Homo sapiens: one gene and its partners. The protein of the gene in region 1 purifies or fractionates together with the protein of each later gene. This does not show direct contact. Each region holds a gene or a part of one and is shown on either strand. Other genes may lie near its edges.

Region 1 (5,508 bases):
CAAAGAGGATGGGTGGCGGGACTCAGGGCGGGCTCAGGGCCAGCTGGGCTTCACTCACCTTCTTTAGAGCCACAAACTCGTTCTCTGCTGTGGCTCGAAGTGCTACTTCTTCTTCATACCTGAGGTGAGCAGGGAGAACAGGACCTTGTCTGAACAGCTCTTGATCTTGGCCATGAGCATATATGCAAAGGAGTCTCTTTCCTAGACCTCCCCCTGCTTGTCTCCTGCCCCCAAGTGAAATGGGTGGGGCTCTGCAGGAACCAGGCTGCTGGCCTGGGTACTACTGGGATGCACTGGAGAAATGAAGTGCCTACTCCCCTGTTTTTTTTTGTTTTTGTTTTTGAGATGGAGTCTCGCTCTGTCGCCCAGGTTGGAGCACAGTGGCGCGGTCTCGGCTCACTGCAAGCTCCGCCTCCCAGGTTCATGCCATTCTCCCCTCTCAGCCTCCCGAGTAGCTGGGACTACAGGTGCCCACCACCACGCCTGGCTAATTCACTCCCCTGTTTTGGTGGAGGTTGGGAGAGCAGGATCTGGAAGCTGAGTGTGTGAATGTGTGTGGTTGGGGAGTGGGAGGTGCTGTTTTTCTCGCCTAGGTCTCCATCTTTTCTTCCTTCGAGCCCTCCCCTGCCCCCACTCAGCTGCAGGTGGTGGGATCCTCGCTCTGTCTCTCCCCTCCTGGCCTGAGCTGTGGGAGGCAGCTCAGAGACAGGGAGGGAGGGGTATGCTGGGCCTGGGGAGTCCATGGAGAGAATGTTACTGAAGGAAGCTGGCCACCCCTCAAAAGCAGATTCCTTCTGAGGATCCAGTGCGTATTCTTCATACCATATATCACACTTTGTAGCTGAAGGGCTAGATCTGTGGCTCTGTCATGACTGCCTTCCAGCAGACTGCAGGCTCCACAAGAACCCGCACTGTGTGGCTTGCGTGGCCCTGTGTCACTATCACCAGCACAGCGTGCTGCATGTGGTAGGTGATCAGATAGTGTTAGCTGAGTGAGAGAGCAAACTTAGGAAGACACATGTCCAGGACTTTGAGATCTGGTCTCAAAGGGACCCAGGAATACAAGTTTTTGTGAAAAATGGATGGAGAAAGGGAGAGAGCATTGTTTCCCTGATCTGCTGGTGGAAAGACAAGCTGAGCCTCCATCCCCCACACCCAAGGGACCCCTGTGTCTCAAACAGGGGGTACAGGTTCTTCTCCACTCTCAGGCAGAGATGCCAGCTGCAGACTGGATACTCCTCCGGGCTCAGGGAGCTGCCACCATGCTATTTCCTGTGCCCAGAACCCCTCCTGCCCACACTCACTTCTTCTTGTAGCCCTCCAGCACCTCCTGCACGTGGTTGAGCTCTGAGGCCAGCCTCCCACTGTCAGCCTCCACGCACTCGGCCTCCCGCCGCAGAGTCTCGATGTAGCCAGCAAACAGGGGCTCCAGGTTACTCTGGCAGCACTCGCGGTTTTGGTAGAACTGCAGCTTTGTCTCCAGCAGCTTGTTCTGCTGCTCCAGGAAGCGCACCTGCCACCCAGAGGCAGAGCCTAAGAACCTCTTCTTGCAGCATCAGAGGACAAAGAGGGGTTCCCAGCACGAGGGCCTGAAAGCCCCCAACTCTCTGACCCAGAGTCTTCCCTGGAAGGCGTTATGTCATCTCTCTCAAAAATGCCACCAGGGCTTAACCAGTTCACCACCTGGAAGTTCTTCCTGGGAGTTAATCTCTTCTAAGTCAGTTTACCTGGTGTCATGGAAAATGCTTGAAGAGTCCAGATTCTGCTGCCACTTGTTAACATTGTGCCCTTGGATAAAGCACTCACCTCCTCTGTAGAGTGGCGAGGTTAAAGCTCACCTTACTATGAGGATTAAAAGAACCCTTTAACAGAAAGGCACCCCACACTGAACAGCTACTGCTGTTCAATCACACCAAGCCAGGTGGACCTTTTTAGAAAGGCAAACTGTAAAAGTTGAAAAATAAAGCATGTGCCAATTATTCAAACCCTACAACAACAATGCAATTAGAATAATAGTCACCTGCAATATGAGAGTAGGAATGTCCTGTGCTCCAACCCCCTTATTTTACTGATGAGGCCAAGGAGGTTCCCTGACTGCCTGAGAGCTCACAGTGGCAGAGAAGAGCTCAAACTCCGATCTTCTGCGCTGCAGGGGGTGTCTTCTCTCCCTTTGACAATTATAGGAACATCCCTCTCCCAGCGATGAGGTTGGCCCACTACTCCACTCAGCTTCTTTTGTCTAATAACTTGGCCACACCCTTGGTAGGTCCTATCTTATGCTATCCTTGGTCTCTCATGCTATTAGAAATTCCACATTTTTTTTTCCCGATCCTTTCTGGTGGGCATCTCTCTAGTGTGACTCCTCTCTTGAGGTTTTGGCTCTGGAGGGCTCTTTCCAACCCCAGAACATGTTCCTAGTCAGAGCCTTTTCTCCCAGTCTCTCACATCACTGCCACATGGTGGTTGCCTGGATTCAGTGGAGAAGGTGGCTGCAAACTCTAGTTGGACACTGACTACACAGATGGTTTCAACCAAACCCAGACTGTGCACTGCCTGCCTCCCCATAAAGCCTGTGAGGATGGGGACCATGACTCTTGCTCACCCCTGGATCCTGAGCCCCAGGAACAGTGGCTTGGACAAAATACTCTAGACCCTGCTCAGTGGCCAAATCACTGTGTGGTATAGAAAGAGTTCTGTGCCATCCACGAGACCCACTTCCAGACAGTTTTCCAGCACCACACTTATTAGCCCTGCCTTGATGGAGACAGCATCTCCTTGGCATTTAAGCAGTTATTTGGCTTCAAATGCCCTGAGCGCCCACACAGTGGTCCTTTGCTCACTAGGTGATATTATCACTCAGTGTGGAAGGCTCTGCCCCTCGTTCTGCTTTTGTGTTTTCAGTTAATCTCCCCCATCAGTCTGGTAGCTCCCGGTCCCATTTTTGTCTTTCTGTCTGTGTCCTAGAAGTATGACTACCTTTCCCTTTGGCCTGGGAACTTCTGTGGGCAAGTTCTTGCCTTTGACTTCCCTGTCAGTGCCCAGCCTGAGTTCTGAACATGAGTAGGGGTTCAGGAAGGGTGTGATCCAGGACGACACCCACCTTGTCGATGAAGGCCGCGAATCTGCTGTTGAGGGACTTGATCTGCTCCTTCTCCTCCTGCTTCACGCACTGCGCGTTGGGGTCTATCTCCAGGTTGAGGGGCGTGAGGAGGCTCTCGTTGACCGACACGGTGGTGATGCATGGGGGGCTGGGTCCGCACACGCCCCCGGAGCGGTAGCCGAAGCTGCGTCCGCAGGAGCCGGCGCGGAAGCCCCCGCACACGCTGTGGCTGCCAAAGCCCCCGGTGAGGCCGCGGTAGCAGGAGATGCCGCGGTAGGGGGCGGCGGTGATGCAGCAGCGGCTTGGCCGGGGCCCGCAGGCAGAGACACAGCTGAAGTTTCCAGGGCGGAACCCACAGCCTATGGAGTTGAAGCCACAGGTCATGACGGAGGTTAGGAGGTGTCTGAACAGTGGAGTAGATGGCAGAGGATGGAACCAAGGGCCTGTGCTCCCTGGCTGATGGCAGGCCCTTTTATGTGCCAGGGGCAGCTGGTGTTAAAAGAGGGAGCAAAGAGACAATAGCTGAATTTTATTGGCTTGGCATCACCCTGGCCTCTTAAGCTAGAACCCTGCTTGCCTCTTCAGTGTGGCTGCATCAACAATCCCTGGCCACGGGCCCTGTTTCATCTTCAAAGCCCTTTATAAGCTTCCTCCTTGCTCCTGCCCCTCCCACTGGCACTGCTGTGGAGCGGGGAGAGGGGTTCCTGAAAGCATTAGTTGCATTCTGCGGTCCAAGCGAGGGGAATGGGTGCAGTGACCTGGGGTAAAGCCTGCTCTCTGAACCCTGTTCTGAAAGGGGCAGAGCTAGGCTATGGGCCCTGGACCCATGGCCAAGCCCTGGGGTGGAGTGGCTGGCCTGTCCCAAGGAGGGGGCTGCCTCTGAGACAACCTCTTGCTGTAGGCTTTCCTGTCTTTTTCTCAAAGGCGGGTTCCTTTCCTCATTGTCAAGATTGGCCGCTCCTATCCTATTCCTGCTCAGAGCCTGGTCAAGGATGGGAGTGGGGGTAGAGATTTGGGGTGGGAGGAGGGCATGTTCTTTGCACTTTGGGTATTCCTAGTGCAGGGACACCATCTGGGACATGGAAGAAACTGATTCAGAGAGTTCAGGACAGTGCCAGGGCTATGCTTCAGAGTTCCAGGTGTCATTGCTGATGGGATCAGGAGCGGGGAGTGTGGAATACCTCAGAGCTCCAGGGACTCATGGAGGAGAGTGGGGACCTGGGCTTGAGGAGGATTGGGGTGGGGTAGTACAGGATTGAGAGATGACCAGAAAAGAGTCTGGCTCTGATTTGCAGACTAGACTATGTGTATTCATTTATTCATTTATTCATTTATTCATTTATTCAGGAAATACTTATTTGGTGCCCACCAACTATGCACTAGCCACTGTGCTAGGTTCTGGAAATCCTACAGAGACCTGGGGTGTTTGGAGGTAGCATGCATGTGGGGGAGCCAACATTTGGCTAGGGGGAAAGATGAGAAGCCACAGATGGGGGGAAGGCCCTCACAATGTCCAGGCTGATTGGTGTTCTTTAGGTTCCCAGCAGGGAAGCTCAGTGATGGGGTCTTGGGGTGTATGTACTCACCAGGAAGGAGGGAAGGTGCGGGAGGTGAGGGACATCAGCAGGGTCCTTAAATGAGATCACTCTCTCACCTCAGAGAACACACTGGGTGAGAGAAGGGTGCTAGCTCATGTGGCTGTTCCTAAAGCCAAGCTCTCTTACTTTGGGCCCTTGTTCCTTTGGGTTAGGACAGGCAATGGCTTTGATGGATGGACAGTCGGACCGAGCCAGGAGGTTTGCCTTAACCCGAGGACCTGAGCCCATCAACCCTTCCAAACACACATCTCTGGACTGCTTTCGTCAGGAGAGGATGAGGAGGACTCCACTGATGGACCTGTGTCCTGACCCAGCCACAACCCAACACTGACCCACTCTGGGCTAATAGTAACCCTCCTGTGACTCTCATCTTTTGCCCTTCCCACTCCCGCTCAGGATGAGTGGGCCAGTTATATCCCAGAGTGGGGATCTGGGGATGATGGAAGAGGGGCCCATCTTCTGTGGGCCTGAGGGAGGGCAGGCGATGGTGCTGTTGAAATCTCTTAGGGAGCTGGACATCTGCCATGGATCCAAAAAAAGGACTCTCCTAGCCTCTCTTCTTGGGTCCTGTGGACAGGCTTCCAGAGTCTTGTGTCTGGGGCAGGAACTCTGGGGGTGTGGGCTGTGTGATAGGGGATCCTGGTGTGAAAGACACACCAGGGAGGCACAGCCTGAGGGTACCTGGGGGGCCTGGGGGTGGCTGACTGCAGCTGAGTGGCTAGTGGGATTTTGGGAGCATCTTTGAGGGAGGCTGGGCTGGCTGGTGCTGTCATGTTCAGTCTTGGTTGGGTCAAACATCTGCTAGACAGC
Region 2 (4,280 bases), on another chromosome or scaffold:
TCAACAACTACTATATGCTAACAGAAGGCATGGAAATCTCAGGTTCTAGAAATTAGTACAATATCAACTACAATAGGTGTATCCACAAGGACATTAGTCTTTCTTCCCCTATCCTCTCACAAATATCTCAAACACGGGAAAGCAGGTTACCACTACCCTTAGGATATTGAAGGCATACAAGTTTACTTAGTAAAACACTATCTATGACTAATCTTATCTACACTGGTTCACAAAACAGATACAAGGTACACAGCAGTAGAATCAAAACCTAATTTTAAAAAATATAAGTTGAGAAGACTTTGAATGAAAAGCTTTTTGAGGTGTGCTAAGACAAAATGAACTTTTACCTCTCCTCCTCAGTCATATGATGATAAACCATGGTTTGCTGACGCAGCATTGCCAATTCTAAATCCATCATTTGTGTTCTAAACAAATTCAGGCTCCGCCTCATTACCTGGAGCTCCTGAAAAGTATTCTAGAATGCAATATAACAAAATTACACTTCTAAATTCTACAAATTATTTTGGAACACAAAGATGTAAGAAAGAACTTACTTCATAAAGAGGTAGAACAGATGATTTCTGAGTACTATATGGAGCAGCAGCAGGATCAGGTCCTCTCATCATAGGGTACTTCAAAAAAGTAAAAGTAGGATTAAAACCAATGTTAAAGTGAATACTTCCAAATCACTTAAGGGGTTAAAAGGCAGAATTTGGGGCCTATATATTTTTCTCTTTAAGACAAAAGGATCCAAAAAACCTTCATATTGTAAGCAGGAAAAAAGAAATCAGTTCCCAATGACACCTAGTACTGCTAGCTGTTCCAGGTATAAGTCAATCTACGTGGGAGGAGGAGGCGAAGGAACATAGTTCACATCTATTTCTTTCAGGACTTCCCTCTTGCGAAACTAAAAAAAAACAAAATCAAAACGCAAAAATGTAGAAGCCATTGCAAATATCATCATGAGATTATAGTGATTATTAACTTTGCTGGAGAGCAAGCAATCATTGTCGTCTTTCTCAGACATCTTAGCATTTCCTATATGCCACTATTTTAGGCAGTGAGATAAAAACATAAAAGGTATTCCCAGCCTTCAGGTGTTCTCACAGTGTAAAGAAAAATAAAGGAAATTTTAAAAAAATTCTAATACTGTGGAAGGAGTGCTATGATGAACACAGAAAAATTCAGATTACGTGAACTTTCCCAAAAGTGGTAACACTACTTGAACTGAGCCTTAACAGTAAATAGGGCTTGATTATGCAAAGAAAGGCAAAGACTGGGTGATCTCGGTTAAAAAAAAGTGGCTTATAGTCCCAGTACTTTGGGAGGCCAAGGCAGGAGGATCACTTGAGCCCAGGAGTTCAAGACTGCAGGGAGCCATGATTACACCACTGTCTCCAGCACTCCACGTGGGCGAGAAACAGAAACTTCATCTTTTTATTTTAAAAAAACAAAACACAAAATCAGCCATGTGCAGATACCTAAGAACACACAACTGTTTAGAGACCTGTGCACAATCCTACAGCTAAGGAATGAGGCTGGAGAGATAGTCAGAGACCACATCATAGAAAGCACCTGTCCACTAGTGTAGGGTGGGGTAGGCATGGGGAGATGTATTAGCTGAGTTATTGCTGGGATATCCAGGAGAAAGAGACCACAGCTGGAGCAGAAGAACTAGGTGGCCTAGAAAGATGCACCACGGTACTGGTGGACAGGGTCCTGGAAATCCCCAGCTTGACATAATCACAGCTGCAAGTTCCATCACAGACAGAACTATATTTTGTAAGGAGGAATAAGAAACACCCACATTCTGTTTAAACAGAAAACTGTTAGGGGACAATTGTCATGAGGATAAAACTTACAGTTAAGAGGAGGTATATCTTATTATAACTTGAGAAGTTACACCTTTGATTTTTACTTTCCAAGTGGCTCCCTGTCTACTATGTCATGATAAGAGGTCTATTACATTCATTCTAGGCCTCCTGACTCTTTGTTGAATGCTCTCATGACTATATTACATTGTCATTTTCTTCAATCCCTCAATTGTCTAAACATGATTCATTCAGAGAGAATGTTCAAGAAAATGTAAAAGGCAAAACTGAAGACAACGTACTTATTTTCAAAATTTTTTTGGGAAAATTATTTCCAGTCTACTAACAAATCTGAGAATGACTTTAAAAGTGACAAGACATACAGAGCATTTTAAATCAAATTCACACTTTACCTGATTTGTTATTTTCTGGTCTGGAGTAGTTCCAGTCTTTGAGTCCAGTGGAAGTAGACTAACTCTGTGCACAGCATCGAGGGTCAGTAGGTGAAGGGGAAAGCTTAGTCAGAGAGCTACGAGCAGAACCAGGAGAACGTGGTGCCACAGAAGCCAACAGGGAGAAAACTTGGAAAAGGAAAAGGTAGTCAACATGTTCAAATAGCAGAGAGAAAGAGAGAAAGAACTTTAAGAGGGAAGATTTTTTAATAATAGAAATGACAAAAGATTCTAGACTAAAACAAAGACAGTGGATGATAGACTAAAAATGGGAGGATACTTAACGAGAAAAATCTCTCCTCTTGGAAAGGAGACAGACTTGTGAGCAGAGAAATCGACTTTGATCAGGGTTAGTTACAGCTTCTCCCTTGAAACAGGAGGGAAGATAGAAAACGAAGGCAGATGCAGATTAAGTTTAGACATGTCAGAAAATAAAGCTGAGGTAGTTCATACTTGATGTGCCTTAGCTTCTCTGTGAATTAAAAAGTGCTCAGAGCAGTAAAAGAAAAAAGCTAATGATAACATACTTTTTCTCATACCTGTGAAAGATTCTGCAGTGAGTTTCTAATATCATGTAATACTCTTCGCAACTGCATTTCTATGGCTGAAGGAGGATTCACAGAGCACACTCGGTAAGGGTAGGTGGCATGTCTATGTGAGTAAGGACACCCGAAAGGGGAAGCGAAGGCACTACAAGTAGCCCCTGATATGTTGGGAACACTGTGAGTGCTCAGAGTTCTTGTGTGCTCACACAGGGGCCTTTCTTGCCACTCAGAGTGGATGGAATGAAGGGAACAGGTAGACTGAGACATTGGTGGTGGAGCAAGCCGTGAACAGGTAGGAGTCCTTCCATGATGGCATTCCTCCACCCGCGGCGCCTCACTCTGGGGGGCTTCTTCTTTCTTCACAGATGATGGAGAGATGAAAATGGTCGATTTAACTAAAGACTGACCATCATGTTCCATCACCCGCTTTTCCAATTCCTGCTCCTCTTCAGGTGTGTACTTATAGGTGAAGGAAGGTGGGCTGCATCTGGTCTCTTTTCCTGGAGATAATCGAACATTGACAGAGGACACAACCCTTACTGGGCTCAATAAGGTGGTTGGTAAAGACTGAGACCTTCTTAGAGGATAGCCAGCTTTTGCAAATAAGTACCTTTGTTTTAACAAATCTTTTGATTTTAGCAGGCTACGCCCCATCCTTTGATTAGACAGACTGCAAACCTTCATTTGAGCTCTTTGCAAAGCTGTATTAACTCTGTCCATGGAAGAGGGAGGCCCAGTTGTATTTTCAGAGCTCATATCACTGCATTTAGCTTCAATAGAAGCCAATGATTTCAGAATATGGTGTGTGGTATACTGAGTAAATTCACTTTCACTGCTTTTACCCACATCACTTTCAGCACTTGCTTCCCTCAGTAGCTCTACTGTCTCTGCTGGAAACAAATCCTCTTCCACTTCAGTAATTTCAATGATATGATCCCCTGGACTACAGGTGGACTGTTTAGTTCCTGTATTCTCAATGGTGTTGCACTGAGGGAAATCCTGGCTACCTGATTTTCTTTTGTCTGCAACTGCTGCTGCCTTCTCTAGTCCCTTCTGAAGAGGGACAAGAGACTCCTCCTCTGATTCATTAAAATAAGGCTGGTCTTGTGCTGTTGGTGTGGCAAGGTCTTCACCAAGTGACGTAACTGTTGTCTCACTGTCACAACTATCAGCACTACTCCCCATAGCCTGCAAGGACTCCTGAACCTGTGAAAAGAAAATAGGTGGAAAGATGAAGAATATATGTAAGAAGAGTCACTAACAAAATACCAAACCAACATGGTGCTTCTATAATTTCACTGTCTCCACTGCAGTTGTGGCCCTGCTGTTGCTCAAAATTGTTTTATTGCTCCTGAGCAGCAACCACATCCCTCCTTCCTCTCACTTTCTCACAAAGATTATTTCAGAACTTCACTGTTTTCCTAAAATTCCCTTTCCAACAACCTCCCCCTTTCCTTTCAATACAACACACT
Region 3 (4,280 bases), on another chromosome or scaffold:
CTCATGCCTGAGCCTCCCTAGCAGCTGGGACTACAGGCACACGCCACCATGCCTTGCTAATCTTTTTGTTATTTTTAGTAGAGATGGGGTTTCGCCATGTTGACCAGGCTGGTCTCAAACTCCTGACCTCAGGTGATCCACTTGCCTCAGCCTCTGAAGTGCTGGGACTACAGGCATGAGCCACCACGTCTGGCTAGAGATGGGGTTTCCCCATGTTGTCCAGGCTAGTCTTGAACTCCTGAGCTCAAGTGATCCTTCCACTTCAGCCTTCCAAAGTGCTGGCATTACAGGCACGAGATACCTCACTTGGCCTTAAGAACTTTTAGGATGAGAAAACGTAAGGCTTCAAAGAAAGTTCTAGATTTAAAAAAAGGCTGCTTTAAGCTATGTTCTCAGGTCTCCTATGTACTTTTTTTTTTTTTTTTGGCTATACAGGGACTCTCCAGAAAAAGTTTAAGAAACACTGAAATAGAAAAAAACTAAGAAAACTAGAAAGTGGTCATCCTCCTTTTCAAGAGCATAGTTGGTGAGAGGAGGTACACAGAGGGCAAAGGACAGAGTAATAGTAACGAAAGCAGTGGGCTGATTCAGTAATCTTGGTAGAAAAAGGTATTCGAGCAGAAGCTTGGGGTTGGAAGTTCATAGTTTTTGTTTTTGTTTTTGTTTTTGTTTTAGGAGAGGAGAGATCTGAGTACATTCCTAAGTTGGAGTGAAGGAAGAGTTAAATATGAAGAAAACAACTGACAAGGCAAAGTCTCAGAGGCCAGGCATGGAGGGCTCACACCTGCAACCCTAGCACTTTGGGAGGCCAAGGCAGGAAGATCACTTGAGGTCAGGAGTTCGAGACCAGCCTGGGCAAAAAAGCGAGGCCTTGCCTCTACAAAAATAATTTGAAAATACAAATAAAAGTTGAAATTATAAATTAAAAAACAAACAAAGCCTTAGAAGGACAAAGGATCAAGAAGTCAAAAGGAGCTAACTCCAGAAAGAAGATGCTGAGTCACTCTGAAGCCATGTAATTGTAGCTTCAGCAAACACAGATCTCATCTGACTTATTCACTGCTGCACACCCTGGATTTAGGACAATGCTTGACACACACTAGATCTGAATAAATACTTGAATTAAAATGAAGTAAAACCACCATGGTGCAATTATGACTCAATACAATATGTGGAAACTTCTTTAAAAAAATGTCTTACATTGTATTATCCTTTGATTCTTCAAATGCATTTAGTTCATGGATGAGAAACTGTCTGTCCAACGGAACTACAGGTTGACCAGATTCTGGGAGAAATAAATTCATGAGAACACTCAGTCTATTAAACTAAAAAGCAAATAAGATTTTGAAAAGAATCACATTTACCAGACATACACTTTTTAGATTTTGGAAGAATGATGACAACACACACCAAGACAGATCAAATTGCCTGTGATTTTATGACTTTCAAAATATCTCTTTTGTTAAATGCATGTCTTAATACAGTTTAACATAAATTCACTTTTTAAATTCCCCAGTGTTTGGTTGGAAAAATACCATTTCTATATCCAAATTATAATACTAAATTTTGGAAGTCTGTTTATCAATAACTTATTTTTGAAAAGAATATCCACTTGGTGACAATACTTATAAATAAAAATTAAAGTTAACCTGAAGTGTGGGGCAGCTGGAACTTTCACACTTTGCTGGTGGGAAAGCACAATGGTACAGGCACTTTGGAAAACAGTTGAGCAGTTTTCTTATAAAGGTGAGCGTGCACTTAACCACACAACCCAGCAATCTCACTCTTAGCTTTCTACCCAAGATTAATGAAAACTTATGTTCTCACAAAAACCTGTATGTAAATGTTTATGGCAGCTTGATTCCTAACTGCTAAAACTAGAAACAACTCAATGCCCATCAACTGGTCATAGATGAGCAAACTAGCACAGCCACACAATAGAACAGTGTTCAAAGGAAAAACAAACATGGCTGAATCTTGAATGTATTACACTAAGTGAAAAAAGGCAGACTCAAAAGGCTACATCATGTACGGTTCCATCTACAGCAAGGGTCCCCAACCCCCGAGCCACAGATTAGAAACTGGGCCACACAGCAGGAGGTGAGGAGTGGGCAAGCAAGTGAGGGAAGCTTGATCTGTGTTTACAGCTGCTGCCCATCACTAGCATCACTGCCTGAGCTCAGCCTCCTGTTGGCAGAATTAGATTCTCATAGAAGCGTGAACCCTATTGTGAACTGCACATGCGAGGGATCTGGGCTGTGCACTCCTTATGAGAATCTAAGGCCTGATGATCTCTCACTGCCTCCCATCACCCCCAGATGGGACCATCTAGTTGCAGGAAAACAGGCTTAGGGCTCCCACTGATTCTACATTATGGTGAGTTATAATTATTTCATTATATATTACAACACAATCATAGAAATAAAATGCACAATAAATGGAGTATGCTTGAATCATCCCGAACCATCCTCCCAGGTCCATGGAAAAATTGTCTTCCATGAAACCAGTCCCTGGTGCCAAAAAGGCTGGTGATATCTTGATTGTGATCTGGTAGTAATTACACAACTGCAGGCATTTGACTAAAGTACAGAACTGTACAGTTTAAAAGGTAAATTTTATTGTATGTAAATTATATCCCAGTTTTTTAAAAAAAGCCAAACCATTTAATATGAAAACTTGACTACTGTCACTATATTTCATTCTAGTGAATCCCAAGTCCCCACTATTTTCATAATTTCTTCTTTTCTGGGTGTAACTGGTATCATACAGCCATCTATAACAAACAAAGGAAAGCAGAGATGCTGATATCAAAGATCCTTAAACCATAAAAATCATGAGTCTTTATGTAGTTCAGACGTATGTTTAATATTAAATAAAGGATCTGTAACGAAAAATTCTAACTTCACAAAGAATTCATTCTCTCTTGCAAAATCTACTTCCTGGCCTCGCTTCTTTGCTGAGGCATGAAGTAGTCAAAGCAGAGATGGAACCTGAAACGAGGGAATCCGATGACACACATTCAGGGTGCCTCAGACCAACCCCCAGCTGCATCCCCCACCCCACCAAGTCCAGGGGTAACCAGGATTCTGACTTATTTATATCCATCCAGTCTCTCCTCACTTTTTTGAAAGAAGACATTTAAAAGTCAGCAGAAGATATTAAAAATATTCTCACCACTCAATAACTGTTACACTTGAAGAGCAAATTTATTTCTCAAGAAATAAAATTCAACAGATAAAGGGAATTTATCTTTATCTCCCCACCCCCAACCCCCAATATCATTCTCTGCCTCCTATCACTAGGATGAGTTTGGAGTTTCCCGCTGCTAGAGTCTGGATATTTGTCTCCGCCCAAATCTCATGTTGCAACGCACTCCCCAGTGTTGGAAGTGGGACCTGGCGGGAGTTGTTTGGGTCATGGGGGTGGATCCCTCATGGCCTGGTGCTGTCCTTACCACAGTGAGTGGGTTCTCATGAGAACAGGTCATTTATAAGTGTGTGGCACTAACCTTCCCCACCCTTGGCCCCTGCCTTCACCATGTAACGTGCTTGCTGCAGTGAGCAAAAGCTCCCTGAGGCCTCCCAGAAGCTAAGCAGATGCCAGTGCCATGCTTGTACAGTCTGCAGAACCGTGAGCCAAGTAAACCTCTTTTCTTCAACCGGGTGCGGTGGCTCACGCCTGTAATCCCAACATTTTGGGAGGCCGAGGAGGGCGGATCACGAGGTCAGGAGACTGAGACCATCCTGGCTAACGGTGAAACCCTGTCTCTACTAAAAATACAAAAAATTAGCTGGGCATGGCCTGTAGTCCCAGCTACTTGGGAGGCTGAGGCAGGAGAATCACTTGAACCCAGGAGGTAGACGTTGCAGTGAGCCGAGATCAATCCACACTCCAGCCTGGGTGACAGAGCAAGACTCTGTCTCAAAACAAACAAACAAACAAACAAACATACAAAAAAACCTCTTCTCTTCATAAATTACCCAGTCTCAGGTGTTTATTTATAGCAATCCAAAAACAACCTAATATACCAGCCTAGTCCTTTATAAATACCATGCTTTTAGATACATACATTTGTAAATGTACCTAAGCACTACATAGTAGTAATATTTCAAAGTTTTATCTCCATTATATCTATCTATCTATCTATCTATCTATCTATCTATCTATCTATCTATCTAGATACACACACACACACACACAAATAGACATATATCTACATATCTATATATAGACAGGGACAGTTTTTTTTCTTTTAAGAGACAGGAGTTGGACCAGCCTGT
Region 4 (5,039 bases), on another chromosome or scaffold:
TATACATACATTGTAAAACGGCTCAACCTAATTAATATATGCATTATTTCATATAGCTGTGAAGACACTCAAAATCTACTCTCTTAGCATGTTTCATATCTTTCATATCGTAACTCAATTAGCTTTGACCCAATTTATTCTATCTCTTGAAGTTCTGGCCTCAAGTGGTCTTTCTGCCTCGGCTTCCCAAAGTGCTGGAATTAACAGCATGAGCCACCACACCTGGCCTTCTATCTCTGATAGTGTGTAAGGCAGCCATTTGGGGTCTGAACTACCTTCAAAGAATCTTTAGATGTGAAGTATGATATTAAAGTAGCAGTAATTTTACCTCTGTGTCACACAAAATACAATATTGTGAAAATAGAAACCCTATAATTTGCATCTTATTGAATAACATACCTGCTTCCAGCACTTTAGTGGGATCAAAAGTGGGCAGAGTCCCCTCCCTGACATCAGGACCATCTCCAGGTGCATCCTCTATCTTAAGCAGAGCCAGTTCCTGTTGAAAAGCTTCCACATCAGTCCCTTAAAGATAAAAAGTCGTCAATTTACGAATTAAAATATGAACTATGAACGAGGTAATAATATTTATTCCCTCATCATTGTGAAATAAAAACCTGTAGGCTAATTATTTCAGAAGTCTGTTGCCAGAAAAGCAGGAAAGCAGAAATGTTCAAACATTGCCCTTTCCTTTCCCAAGGCTGGCCCTAGACAACTTACTTGTTCCTTTTGTACTCATTTGTTCTTATTCTTATCACATTAAATCAGTGATTTGTTTGAGTCAGTCTGACTAGACTATGAGCTTTAGGCAAAAATTTGGCACTGACATCTCCGGCGCTTAGTATATTACACAGCATGAGGAAGCATTAATAAATGTGTTAAAAAGTATCTTATAAAAATACATGAGAGATGTCCGCAGATGGCAGACTAGGAAGCTGCAAGCTGCCATTCTTCCACAGAAGCATAAAACAAAACAAAACAAAACAAAAAACAGAAAATAGCTGAACAAACCATACAGGAACTCTGGAAAACACTCAAAGGTTTACGGCAACCATGCAAATACCCAATCAATAAAAAGCCTCCGTCAAAATGGTAGGAAAGTTTGTGGCTTTTTATGTGTCCTTGTCCCACCCCTCCGCACAGCAGCAGTAAGAAATGTTTAAGATTCCTTCCTAATGTTTTCTGTCCTCCTGTTACTGGTATGTCACAAAATATAATGCATAAATAGACCTCCACCACCCATAAGCATTATTCTCCACTCTCCCTTCACCTTGAACAGCAGGTGCTCCTTCATTTTTGATCTCCCCACTAGGTGCAATACCCTGATTATCAGTTGGTGGTTCCTCTTCTTGACGTTTTTCCTCAGTGGGCTGCTGGACCTAAGGGTGTAAGTGTGTGTGCGAATAAAAAGTCAATAATATAAACACACAAATGCATATGTGCATCGAATCATAAATCTAAAGACATTTTCCAATAGATATATATATAGAGAGAGAGTAAAATATCCATATCCATAAGGCAACACCAGAATATAATATTCCTGAACCAAAGTTGCCTTCATGAGATGCCATCATCATTTTTTATTAGCATGGAACACCTGTATCAGTGCATGTACACTCGCTCAAAAATATTTTTTAAAATAAAATGTGTTAATAGAAAACATCAAATGCTAAAGGACTCACAATCACAGGTCCAACTGGCTGGGAAGACTCTTGGTCATTTCCTCTTTCTGAGGATTGGGATCTTGTTACATGCTCACTCATATCTCTCACTGAAAACAAAATATTGTTATTTGGAAAAAGTGTGTAAGAACTTAGCTATATATATGAACATTCCATGGCAAAATGGTGATTTGTACTTTTTTAATTTTGAAAATATTTTCAAACTAAGTCACAGAGCATTGATAAGTACGCATGCTTTCCAATCAAACTAAGGACAGATTTGTTTGTATCATAGTCGAAGAGGCACAGAAAACACCTTAACGCCATAGCAAAAGACAGAGGACTTTTCTGAGTTTTGGCTTCACAATTAGACTCTCCATCATTTACACATTTAGGAAAAAAACGGGCAGAAAATTGAAACTGAAGTGACTGCTGCTTTCCTCCCACTCTGATATACTAGGGCCACCACCACCTCCTCCCCACTCCCCGAAAAATCAAGTTTTGTTGGAATGCACAGCCTCAACCATTCCTTTCCATGAGGTCCATGGCTGAGATGAGAAGTTGCGACACAGAGTTAAGGTTATGTTCCTCACTGGACACCTCTGCCAGGCACTCTACAGACCTCGGGGCCGTAGTCACCAGCCCACAGCGTTCCCAGTTTCCTGGCCCCTTCCTTACCACCCACACCATCCCTTCTCGCATCCCTAACGAAGAGTCCAGAAACTGTCCTCCCTCAGAGAGTTCCAGGCGTTTTCGGGACTCAGACACCTCTAACAGCACCCACCCCCAGGACTCGCACCATCTTCAGGCGATCTACCCCCTCCACGGCCTACCTTCCTCCCTCGTTCCAGCCCAGCCACGATTACCGGCCCATGGCGCCTGCATCAGGACCTGGGGGAAGGCGGAGGACCACCGCGAGGCCCTTTTCCCTCAAAGCCACGGACTGTGCCACGGGACCTGTCCTAAGCCCGCTGGCTCCTCCACACATTCACTCACAACTAAATTACCAGGAAGACCACTCTGCAGACCTACCGGCTGAGTCTCGGTCAGTGAGAAAGAACGAAGATGTTGGAAAGAACGAAGATGGCGGAAAGAACGAAGACACAACCTCTCCTTGCAGAGCTCTGCCTAGACAGAAGGTGGGCAGAAAGGCGCATGCGCAGCAACAGATCTGTGCAGCATGCGCACTCAGTGGGGTATTTGCCACGTGACTGAAGGTTTCCTGCCTCTGTGGAGAACCTAAACCACAAGCTCTTCTGACAACGAAAATGAACTTACAAAGCACTTTTCTTTTTCCCCCGCCCAACCTTCCTTTCACTTCCAATGGCGTTGGAGAATATGAGGCCCAGGTTACTCTAAGAAAACAATGTGTTTCGGACAAATTCGCCATCATAGAAATAAATATTATATATGTTAATACCCATTTTATATCTGCTTTCATAAATCATTTTCTTGTGCCTTCGCGAGTCTGCTGTCATGCTTGCAATGATCTTACCCACTCCAATATGATAAGACATTCATAGTTTTTGTTGCATGATTGTACATTCAAAATCATTGATCCGGGCCAGGCGCAGTGGCTCACGCCTGTAATCCCAGCCCTTTGGGAGGCCCAAGCGGGCAGATCACGAGGTCAGTAGATCGAGATCATCCTGGCTAACATGGTGAAACCCCATCTCTACTAAAAATTCAAAAAATTAGCCGGGCATAGTGGCACGCGCCTGTAGTCTCAGCTACTCGGGAGGCTGAGGCTGGATAATTGCTTGAACCCGGGAGGTGGAAGTTGCAGTGAGCCGAGATCGTGCCACTGCACTCCAGCCTGGGCAACAAAGTGAGACCTCATCTCAAAAAAAAAAAAAAAACAAAACAAACAAACAAAAAAAAAATTGATCCATCTGAACAAAATTAAGTGGTAGGGACTCTACATCATTTGTTGAATCCCTGTTTCACCCACTGTTTTGAAGTGGCTCTTTTATCATCACCTACATCCCCACTCAATTTTGTATGTAACTCTCTTATTTTAATTTTCTTCCATTGAGTCGTTTGTACCTGTACCACTAGTATACTATTTTAATTGCTGTAGCTTAATTATATTTGTAATGCGAAATAATGCTTGCCCTCCCTCATTGCTTTTTCCTTTTCTGTCTACTCTGACACATTTGTCTTTCAGATGAACTTCAGAATCATTTGATCAGGTGCTAAAATATTCCAGGTGAGACACTAGGTATTATTTTTAAATTACATCTTAACTTAGGGACAATATCTATCTTTCTATTTTAGAATTTCTCTATCCAAGAAAAAGCCACTCCTCATTTCCTCAAGTCTTTTTATGTATCCCTCACAATGACTGTGTTATTTGCTTCATATTAGTTCTTCACATTCAAATTAAATTTATTATTGGGCATTTTTATTGTTCTATTCCCTTCTGGACAGATGTTTGCTTTCACTTCACTATGTTTTTCATAGAAGTCAAACAATCTCTGTTCGCAAACAATATGATTCTATACCTAGAAAATCCCAGATTCTCTGCCAAAAAGATCCTTGATCTCATAAACTACTTCAGGAAAGTTTCCGGATACAAAATTAATGTACAAAAACCCGGAGCATTTCTATACACCAGCAACCTTCAAGGTCAGAGCCAAATCAGAAACACAATCCCATTCACAATTGCCACAGAAACAATAAAATACCTAGGAATGCAGGTAACTAGGGAGGAGAAAAGTCTCTACTATGACAACTACAAAACACTGCTTAAAGAAATCAGAGATGACAAAAACAAATGGAAAAACATTCCATGCTCGTGAACAGGAAGAAGCAATGTTGTCAAAAGGCCAAACTGCAGTTTATAGATTCAATGATATTCCTATTAAACTACCAATGACACTCTTCGTGGAATTAGAAAAAAAAACTACTTTAAAATTCATATGGAACCAAAAAAGAGCCCGAATAGCCAAGGCAATCCTAAGCAAAAAGAATGAAGCCAGAGGCATCATATTACCTGACTTCAAACTATAATATGAGGCCATGGTAACCAAAAAAGCATTGTACTGGTACCAAAACAGTCACATGGACCAATGAAATAGAATACACCGTCCAGAAATAATGCTGCAAACCTCACACCTATTACCATCTGATCGTCAACAAACTCAACAAAAGCAAGCAATATAGAAAGTATTCCCTATTCAATAAATGGTCCCAGGATAACTGGCTAGCTTATGCAAAAGATTGAAACTGGATCACTTCTTATACAAAAATTAAGTAAAAATGGATTAAGAACTTAAGTATAAAACCTAAAACTATAAAAATCCTGGAAGACGACCTAGGCAATATCATTCTAGACATAGGAATGGGCAAAGATTTCATAACGAAGATGCCAAAAGC

Evidence for each region. Proteins that work in one complex are often made in the same cells at the same time.
Region 2: the proteins of KRT83 (region 1) and ITPRID2 purify together in Homo sapiens (affinity purification with mass spectrometry; one large-scale study listed by BioGRID and IntAct). This does not show direct contact.
Region 3: the proteins of KRT83 (region 1) and CEP20 purify together in Homo sapiens (affinity purification with mass spectrometry; one large-scale study listed by BioGRID and IntAct). This does not show direct contact.
Region 4: the proteins of KRT83 (region 1) and PAGE5 purify together in Homo sapiens (affinity purification with mass spectrometry; one large-scale study listed by BioGRID and IntAct). This does not show direct contact.

What each region holds. Positions count from the first base shown.
Region 1 is NC_000012.12:52,317,852-52,323,359, forward strand, and holds the start of KRT83 (keratin, type II cuticular Hb3), read right to left. Parts: upstream 3,548-5,508; 5' UTR 3,485-3,547; coding exon 3,101-3,484; intron 1,514-3,100; coding exon 1,305-1,513; intron 120-1,304; coding exon 59-119; intron 1-58.
Region 2 is NC_000002.12:181,914,950-181,919,229, reverse strand, and holds part of ITPRID2 (protein ITPRID2), read right to left. Parts: intron 4,015-4,280; coding exon 2,803-4,014; exon of another isoform or gene 2,631-2,802; coding exon of another isoform or gene 2,544-2,630; exon of another isoform or gene 2,393-2,543; coding exon of another isoform or gene 2,333-2,392; exon of another isoform or gene 2,225-2,332; intron 908-2,224; exon of another isoform or gene 760-907; intron 633-759; coding exon 555-632; intron 476-554; coding exon 348-475; intron 1-347.
Region 3 is NC_000016.10:15,878,604-15,882,883, forward strand, and holds part of CEP20 (centrosomal protein 20), read right to left. Parts: intron 1,286-4,280; coding exon 1,201-1,285; intron 1-1,200. UniProt on the Homo sapiens protein: Involved in the biogenesis of cilia. Required for the recruitment of PLK1 to centrosomes and S phase progression.
Region 4 is NC_000023.11:55,218,107-55,223,145, reverse strand, and holds the start of PAGE5 (P antigen family member 5), read right to left. Parts: upstream 2,801-5,039; 5' UTR 2,694-2,800; exon of another isoform or gene 2,547-2,693; coding exon of another isoform or gene 2,495-2,546; intron 1,772-2,494; coding exon of another isoform or gene 1,764-1,771; coding exon 1,683-1,763; intron 1,380-1,682; coding exon 1,271-1,379; intron 526-1,270; coding exon 400-525; intron 1-399.